2 separate regions of the Homo sapiens genome follow, and region 1 is linked to region 2. The links come from fine-mapping of genetic effects on gene expression. A gene starts in region 2. The other region holds a variant in brackets. All regions are shown on one strand. Distances are from middle to middle.

Region 1 (4,378 bases), 21 kb before region 2:
AAATACAAAAAATTAGCTGGGCTCCATGGCTTGTGCCTGTAGACCCAGCTACTTGGGAGGCTGAGGTGGGAGGATCCCTTGAGCCCAGGAGGCAGAGGGAGCAGTGAGCGGAGATCATGCCACTGCACTCCAGCCTGGGTGACAGAGCAAGACGACCCCATCTCAAAAAAAAAATTAGGTGGGCATGGTGGACTGTGCCTGTGGTCCAAGCTTCTCAGGAGGCTGAGGTGGGAGGACTCCTGGAGGCTGCAATGAGCCAAGATCATGGCACTGCACTCCAACATGGGCATGAGAGTGAGACCCTATCTTAAAAAAAAAAGAAAGGAAAAAAGAAAAAGAAAAGTTGCTGTTTAACACAATTGACTTGCCCTCAAATTCCTTCCTGGGTGAAGCCAAGAACCCTCTCAGACTAAGCCCCAATTTTGAGGCTTGCCTGTCCTATCACCTTCACGTGCTCAGCTGTTCCATTGAAGTGCATGTGTGTAGCAATTCCAGAATGTTTAACTGGGACCCACAGTGGGGTTTCAAACAGAAACTGCTCACCTTTTTCTCCAGCTTGAAACACTCCCCAGACTCCCCAGCACTCTTGGTAAAAACTGCAAACCTGTCTCAGCAGCCCATCATGCTTATGGGGTCCGGCCCTCCCTACATTCCTGTCCTCACCTCTCTCTACCCACCTCAATGCAGGGGGCACAAAAGCCGTTCCACCTCAGGGTGCATCTGACTGGTAACTTTCCTACCTTGAGCTCTTAGTTCCTGTTTGGTCCCCTCCTCCAGGAAGCCCTCCATCTGGCCTCCCAGGCTCCTTTCCCAACTTTAGCTCTTATGGTCCCTTCCTCCAGGAAGCCCTCCATCTGGCCTCCCAGGCTCCTTTCCCACCTTTAGCTCTTGTGGTCCCCTCCTCCAGGAAGCCCTCCTTCTGGCCTCCCAGGCTCCCGTCCCACCTTTAGCTCTTAGTTCCTATGTGGTCCCCTCCTCCAGGAAGTCCTCCTTCTGGCATCCCAGATTTCCTTCCCACCTTTAGCTCTTAGTTCCTATGTGGTCCTCTCCTTCAAGAAGCCCTCCAGCTAGCTTCCCAGGCTCCTGAAAACCCATCTGGTTTTCCTTCCAAGCCAGTGCTGATCCCCCAGGACTGGGATGTTATGTTAGGCATTGCCCCCTCCCCCTCCAGCCTGGGAGCTTCTTGGGGGCCCTGGCCCTGGTACTATCCACACCTGTCAGGTGAGGTCTGAACTGCATCCACACTCCCCCAGACACTCCACTCCCAAGCCTGGGCCAGGGGAAACAGAGCTCAGAGAAAGCAAGCTACTCTTGGAAGTCACACAGCAAACACACGTCAGAGGCAGGACTTGACATGGGTGTGCTGGTACCACAGCTCACACCTGCCCTGGGCCCAGATCCCAAAGGATGCTGTAGGGGGTGGGGAGGACAGGATGACATAGGTCAGGCCTGTCTGGAGTGCCTGGGGCCGAACAGGCCAGGGAAGAAAACTCAGGGGTCCAGTTGCCAAAACAGCCCAAGGCTCCCTGCTCTTCCTGGAGGTTCAGGCCAACTTTCTTATTTCTGAGACTGGGGAAGAGGAGAAGCCCAGAGAGGTTAAGGAACATTCCCGAGGTCACCCAGCAGTGCTGCCAAGCTGGGGCACAACCAACATTTCCCAAGAACCTGGTGTGTGGGTACAGGTACTGGGTCCTGTCCTGGGCAGCGGGCACCCAGAAACAACCAAGATGGAGAGGGTGCAGCTCTCATGGGCTCACAGTTGGGGGAATCAATATAAACATATTGACATATAAACATATAAACAAGTAAGAGTCTGCTAGGGCTATGGATTAAAAGGAAATACAACAGGAAGATGTGCTGGTGGACAGGACGACACTTTATTTATTTATTTATTTATTTATTTATTTATTTATTT[ATTTATTTT/T]GAGATGAAGTCTCGCTTTTGTCCCCCAGCCTGGAGTGCAATGGTGCGATCTCGGCTCACTGCAACCTCCATCTCCCGAGTTCAAGTGATTCTCCTGCCTCAGTCCCCTGAGTAGCTGGCATTACAAGCGCCCGCCACCACGTCCAGCTAGTTTTTGTATTTTTAGTAGAGACGGGGTTTCACCATGTTGGCCAGGCTGGTCTCAAACTCCTGACCTCAGGTGTTCCCAAAGTGCTAAGATTACAGGCGTTGAGCCGCTGCGCCCGGCCTTATTTATTTATTTTGAGACAGTCTCACTTTGTTGCCCAGGCCATCTCAGCTCACTGCAACCTTCACCTCCCAGGTTCAAGCGATTCTCCTGCCTTATCCTCTCGAGTAGCTGGGATTACAGGCACCCACCACCACGCCCGAATAATTTTTTTTTTTTTTTTTTGAGACGGAGTTTTGCTTTTGTCGCCCAGGCTGGAGTGCAGTGACGCGATCTCGGGTAACTGCAACCTCTGCCTCCCGGGTTCAAGTGATTCTCCTGCCTCAGGCTCCAGAGTAGCTGGGATTACAGGCGTGTGCCACCACGCCCCGCTAACCAGGTTGGTCAGGCTGGTCTCGAACTCCTGACCTCAGGTGAGCCACCCACCTCACCCTCCCAAAGCGCTAGGATGACAGGAGTGAGACACTGCATCCGGCCCTAATTTTTGTATTTTTAGTAGAGACGGGGTGTGACTATGTTGGCCAGGCTGTTCTCAAACTCCCGACTTCTGGTGATCCGCCTGCCTCAGCTTCCCAAAGTGCTGGGATGACAGGCGTAAGCCACCATGCCTGGCCAGGACACTTTTAAGAGAGGGAGTCAGGAAGGGTCCAGGCAGTGGACTAAGAGGTAGCAAGGAGGGCTACCTGGAGGAGGTACCATACCAGGCAGGGCTCCACCACGCCCTGCCCCATCACTGCCTCTCTCTGGGAAGAGCTGACATCTTCCCAGAAATGAGCTCTGGCCACGCCCCACCAGGACCTGGCACCCCCACCCCCACCCCTCTTCCACTGGCGGGCCTCTCCCAAGTCCACTTTAAGCCCGCTTCCCCTGCGTCTCCCCTCCCCCAGGGCCCCATGGGATTTGGTCCCAGCTGCTCAGTGAGGCCTCCAGGCAGCTGCCTCCCACACTCTTCCCCCTTTGCGGGGGCGTCAATGTCACCCTTCTCTCAGTTCCTCCAGCAAACCAGGCCTTTGCCTCTGCCGGTCCCTCCTCCAGGAGCACCCTTCCCCTTCCCTAATAAGGCTCACCCTTTTGCATCCTTGGGAAGCCTCCTTTAACCCCCAAGGCGGCAGCGCTAAAAGGCTTCCTCTGAGCCCTCGGGGTGCGCGTGCCACCTCCCCACACCTCACACCATGGGCTGTTGCTTCTTTGTGTTTCACTCGCCCACCTGACACTGTTTGCCCAGTGGGAGGAACTTCCAACAGTTTTTGTTTTTATTTTGTTTTGAGACAGAATCTTGCTCTGTTGCCCAGGCTGGAGTGCAGTGGTGCGATCTCAGCTTACTGCAACCTCTGCCTCCCAGGTTCAAGCAATTCTTCTGCCACAGAGTAGCTGGGATTACAAGACGTGCACCAGCACACCTGGCTAATTTTTGTATTTTTAGTAGAGATGGGGTTTCTCCATGTTGGCCAGGCTGATCTTGAACTCCTGACCTCAAGTGATGCGTCTGCCTCGGCCTCCCAAAGTGCTGGGATTACAGGCATGAGCCACTGCACCTGGCCTAAAAAGCTTTTTTGAGAGTCAACTGGCAAGGAGACAGTAGGCGAAGTTCAAATCTGTCTCTTCAAGCTGGAGCTTGGGGGCAGGTTTCATAGGCAGAGGGTTATCATGGGAGAGATACGGAAATGCAATGGGGGTGATATGACTGCATCACGTGCAGGGGCGATGATGTGTTTTTGGTGCTCAAGTCCACACTGCAGTAAACAAGGCACCGCCCTCCCCCTTTTATTTTTTGAGACAGGGTCTTGCTCTGTTGCCCAGGCTAGAGTGCAATGGCGAAATCACAGCTATCTGTAGCCTCAACCTCCGGAAGCTCAAGTGATCTTCCCACCCCAGCCTCCCAAGTAGCTGGGACTACAGGCGTATGTTACAACACACAGCTAATTTTTGTATCTTTTGTAGACGGGGTCTCACTATGTTGCCCAGGCTAGTCTCCAATTCCTGGGCATGAGACACCACACCCAGCTTTCTCTTTTTAATTTGGTCCCCATTCCTTTTTTTTTTTTTGAGATGGAGCCTCGCTCTGTCACCCAGGCTGGATCTCAGTGACGGTGGGATCTCAGCTCACTGCAATCTCTACTTCCTGGGTTCAAGCAACTCTCCCTGCCTCAGCCTCCTGAGTAGCTGGGATTACAGGTGCGCACCACCATGCCCCGTTAGTTTCTTTTGTATTTTTAGTAGAGACGGTTTCACCATGTTGGCCAGGCT
Region 2 (4,378 bases):
CTCATCAAAAAACCCCCTCCTCAGAGATCTCCCTGCCTCTTCCCCCTTCAATGCCAATTTCCTCATCTGTCAATCAGGGACAAAAACACCAGTTCCTGCACTGTGGGTTGCTGAGGACTGAGGGGGTTATCACTGGGTCACGGCTTGCATTTGAAAGGTCTCAACTGTATTATTACTGTTGTTATTTATAGCTGCATCCCACCCCCCATGCCTGGCACACGGCTGGCACTTCCCCAAATAACAAGAGGTAGGGAGCAGTCAGGGGGACCCCAGCCTCACCTTTCACAATGCTGGAGAAGGTGGCAGAGTGTCGGGACACAAAGACCTTGAGCTGTTCATCAAGGTTGCAGACGCCAGGATCGACATCCCAAGACCGGATGCCTGGTGGGAAGGAGGGATCAAGGCGGGAGTTCAGCCGGGCCCCCCAGCTCCCAGAATATTTCAATAATTAGCACCCCGTGGGTGGGGAGCGCCCCAGCCTCCTCCCTTCACTCACAGCTTGGAGACTCAGAAGTACCCAACACCTTCAGGTCTCGCTGCAGCTGAGCCAGGGGACCCAGAGCACACCTCATCATTTTACACACAAGATTCATCAGCAACAAAGCCTCCACCTCCTCCATCTCCACCTCCTCGCTGCTCCTATGCCCTGCCAGACCCGTTTCCACTCACCGCCCTTGCAACAGCTGTTTCCCCTGCCTGGAAGTCCATCCCCCTGCCGCCCCCACCTGTTCCTACTGGCCAGGGGGCCCTTCCCCCTCAGCACCTTCGGGTGCTAAGACTGACTGTCCTCTCAGTCCCTTGCAGCCTTCTCATCCTTCCTGACACCATGTGAGCTGGAAGCTTGTTCCATCTCCTCACTCGCTTTGGGTCCATCCCCAAACCAGACCTGTGTTGGCAGGGCTGAACCTGTCTATCATCCCGGCCATATCCCTGTGTCCACTGCCCAAAGGCCTGGCGCATAGCAGGTGCTCACTAAACACTCCTCAAGCACATGAACCGAGGTGCGTGTTCCTGTCCCATTTTACATGCAATGAAACGCCAGGTCCAGATGCTCCGAGGGATGGGGGATGAACACCCATCTCCACCCACGGGCGCATCACGCCCGCCAGTCCCACTGAGCCAAGTGGCTGCAGGTGAACCTGGCAGGTGCGCCTATGACTCACCTCCCTAGGTGCCAAATCCCCAGGGCAGGCCGCACCCGCCCACACCCCAATTAGCAGCTCCTTGTGAGGCAACAGAAAGCGGGCCCCGGGGCTCCAGGCCCAGCCTCCCCCATATCTGCTTCTCCCTCCGGGAGATCTCTATCTAAGCTGCTAAGACCTGGAGATCCAAAGCGACCCCAGGCCCTACCCCCGGGCAGGCCAGTCAGGCGGGAAGCGGAGCCGTGGTCCAACTGCAAGGGTCCCCAAGCCCAGGCCCGTGTCCCCTCCCCTATCTTCACCCGGAGTTGGGGCGGGGCAGCCCTGCCCAGCCCAGGCCCGGATGCCACTTTCTCCGCGGGCACCCACGGGCACCCCGCCTTTGCCCGCGTCGTGCGCCTAACGGTGAAGGGGACCCAGCCCCAGGCCCGCGACCCCCGCCCCGGAGCCCGGGTCCCGCCGCCGCCGCCGCCGCCGCCCCACCCCGCCGGCCCCGGGCCCAGACGCGCGAACGGGCCCGCCTCCCGGGCTCCCGCGGGCCCCCAGGCCAGCCCGACCTCTTTCGAGCTCCTCCAGGACGTAGGTGAGGAGCCCCGGGCTCCCGAACTCGCTGCCCACCACGAGGAGCAGTGAGCTCGGAGCCGCGGCAGCCCCAGATCCAGCCACCGCCGCCATCTTCGGGCCGCCCCGGCGTTCTCGGCGCCCGCCCCGCAGGCCCCGCCTCTTAAAGGGGCCGCACCGGAAGGGCTGAAGACCCCGCCCGGAACCACCGCATCCCCGCCCCTTTTTGTCGACCACTTACAGGCCCTTTGAGGTCGTGGAGAGCAGGGGATGCGGGCGTTAAAGGGGTTGGCCGACTCCTGGGTGTCCGCTTGGGAGCCGCCTCTCCCAAGTGACCATTCATTCATTTTTTTTTTCATTGAACAAGCTTTGATTGCGTGCCTGCTGCATGTAGGTCAGAACTCCTGCCCTCCAGGAACTCACATCACATGACAGTAGGCCGCATCAGAACCCGGTGCCTATGGATGCTCCCAGCTCTCTAGGTCAGGGCTTGAACAGAGAAAAGAAATCTATCTTGTAGGTAGGGCTTTAAGGGATGTGTAGGAGTTTGCCTTGTGGGTGGTGGGGCAAGAGCTGGTGAGGCAGAAGTTTACAGCAGGTGCAAAGTTTTAGAGGTAAGAAAGTACATGTGTGTTTGGGACACAACCGGAGCACTCTGGGCCTGCCTGGAACAGGGCAACACTTATTCTGCACCTCCTGTGCGCCAGGTATTTTATTGCATTAGCTCATTACATACAAGCACAAAGCGATGAGTTTTGTGCTTGTATGTAGGCACAGATGAGTAGGCACAGTTACTGTGGTCACTTTCAGAGGAAAGAAGAGGAAACTGAGATTTGGAGGGATGAAGTCACCAGGCCTGTAAGTGGTAGAGCAGGTTTGAACCCAAGTGGGTCTTACTCTAGATCCAGCCTGTGCAAGGGACTGCCTGCGTTGCGCACATGGGTACCTCTCTCTCCCCAGATAATCCTCTTTAGGCTTTTCTTTCCTTTCCTCCCCTCTCTTCTCCTCTCCTCCCCTCCCCTCCTCTCCTCTTCTCCCCTCCCCTCCCCTTCTCTCCCCTCTCCTCTCCTCTCCTCCCCTCCCCTCCCTTCCTCTCCCTCCCCTCCCCTCCCCTCCTCTCCCCTCTCCTCTCCTCTCCTTTCCTTTTCTTGAGATGGAGTCTCATTCTGCCGCCCAGGCTGGAGTGCAATGGCACAATCTCAGCTCACTGCAACCTCTGCCTCCCGGGTTCAAGCGATTCCCTTGCCTCAGCCTCCCAAGTAGCGGGATTATAGGTGTCCGCCACCATGCCCTGCTAATTTTTGTATTTTAGTAGAGATGAGGTTTCTTTTCTTTTCTTTTCTTTTCTTTTCTTTTCTTTTCTTTTCTTTTCTTTTCTTTTAGAGACAGAGTCTCGCTCTGTCGCCCAGGCTGAAGGGTAGTGGCGCGATCTCGGCTCACTGCAAGCTCCACCTCCCAGGTTCATGCCATTCTCCTGCCTCAGCCTCCCGAGTAGCTGGGACTACAGGCGCCCGCCACTGTGCCCAGCTAATTTTTTGTATTTTCAGTAGAGACGGGGTTTCACCGTGGTCTCGATCTCCTGACCTCGTGATCTGCCTGCCTCGGCCTCCCAAAGTGCTGGGATTACAGGCGTGAGCCACCGTGCCCGGCAGAGATGGGGTTTCACCATGTTGGCCAGGCTGGTCTCGAACTCCTGACCTCAAGTGATCCTCCTGCCTTGGCCTCCCAAAGTGCTGGGATTACAGGCGTGAGCCGCCGCGCCTGGCCCCCTTTAGCCCTTTGACCCATAGGGGCTACTACTTGACAAATCATCTTGCTTGGAACTTCTGGACAGTGGTCCATGCCCAGGAAACATTGAACCTCCTTTCTCAGGAGTGAGCTCCCTGTCTCCGGGAGTATGCAAAGAAAAGCAGAACAGAAATGGGAAAGATCTGGGAAGGCGAATCAGCCTCCCGCTGCCGTTTATTATCTAGGTTGTTCAGCCCAACTTCCTCCCTGGCCAGTGTGTAACAGCCACTGGCCACGTGCCGTCTACCATTCTTGCACTCCACTTCCTCTCTCTCTTTTTGGTTCTGGCATCCTTCCTCTATCCTTGTCCCTCCCCCTTGGCTCCCTTCCCTGTGTCTCGCCTGCCTGTGATTTCTTCTGTTATTGCTGTGAGCAGTAATAGTAGTGGGAGTGTCTGTGTCGGGCACTATCTCCCCTATAAGGCTGGAAACTTTTGGAAGCCTGAGGCCTCTCTGGGGCCCTGGCCTTGTGCAACACAAGGCTTGGGCATCTGAGAAGGGATATGATAAAGTCTTTTGGAATGGGCTGAAAGGCCTATTTGTCCACTATTCCTTCCTTCCTTCCTTCCTTGTGTATTTATGGATGGGTCCAGGATTCGAACCCAGGAGCTTCTGAATGGAAGTCTATCCACTTCCTTCTGCCCACGCTGTGAATTATGATTGTTGGTACTAATTCTTTTTTTTCTTTCTTTTTTTTTTTTTTGAGACGGATTCTCACTCTGTCGCCCTTGCCAGAATCATTCTGAGAGAGAGAGAGAGAGTCTTGTTCTGTCAAGCAGGCTAGGTTGGAGCACAGTGGTGTAACCTCGGCTCACTGCAAGCTCCGCCTCCCGGGTTCAAGGGATTCTCCTGCCTCAGCCTCCTGAGTAGCTGGGATTACGGTACCCACCA

Alleles and levels. Positions count from the first base shown, and alleles are read on the strand shown. Sizes are in standard deviations (SD) of each study's normalised expression.
As copies of ATTTATTTT replace T in region 1, the expression in CD8 T cells of the gene that starts at base 1,837 in region 2 goes down (small effect, 0.40 SD a copy in Kasela 2017).

The links. PIP is the estimated chance that this variant, and not a neighbour inherited with it, causes the effect. A credible set is the group of variants that fine-mapping cannot tell apart.
Region 1: its variant is the best candidate, but not a certain one, in a credible set for the expression of MAP1S in CD8 T cells (Kasela 2017, PIP 0.81).

What each region holds. Positions count from the first base shown.
Region 1 is chr19:17,738,121-17,742,498 of GRCh38, reverse strand. All of the region lies in intron 3 of FCHO1-AS1 (FCHO1 antisense RNA 1), which reads left to right. Among named protein-coding and RNA genes, the nearest start is that of FCHO1-AS1, 11 kb to the left of the region's middle. RefSeq lists an enhancer at 3,136-3,636. The variant ATTTATTTT/T (reference allele first, on the strand shown) is at 1,916.
Region 2 is chr19:17,716,939-17,721,316 of GRCh38, reverse strand. MAP1S (microtubule associated protein 1S) reads right to left here and starts at 1,837. Exons shown (of 7, transcript NM_018174.6): 1 at 1,697-1,837; 2 at 280-381. The coding sequence starts at 1,814. RefSeq lists enhancers at 646-795, 1,186-1,255, 3,306-3,807 and a silencer at 1,606-1,655.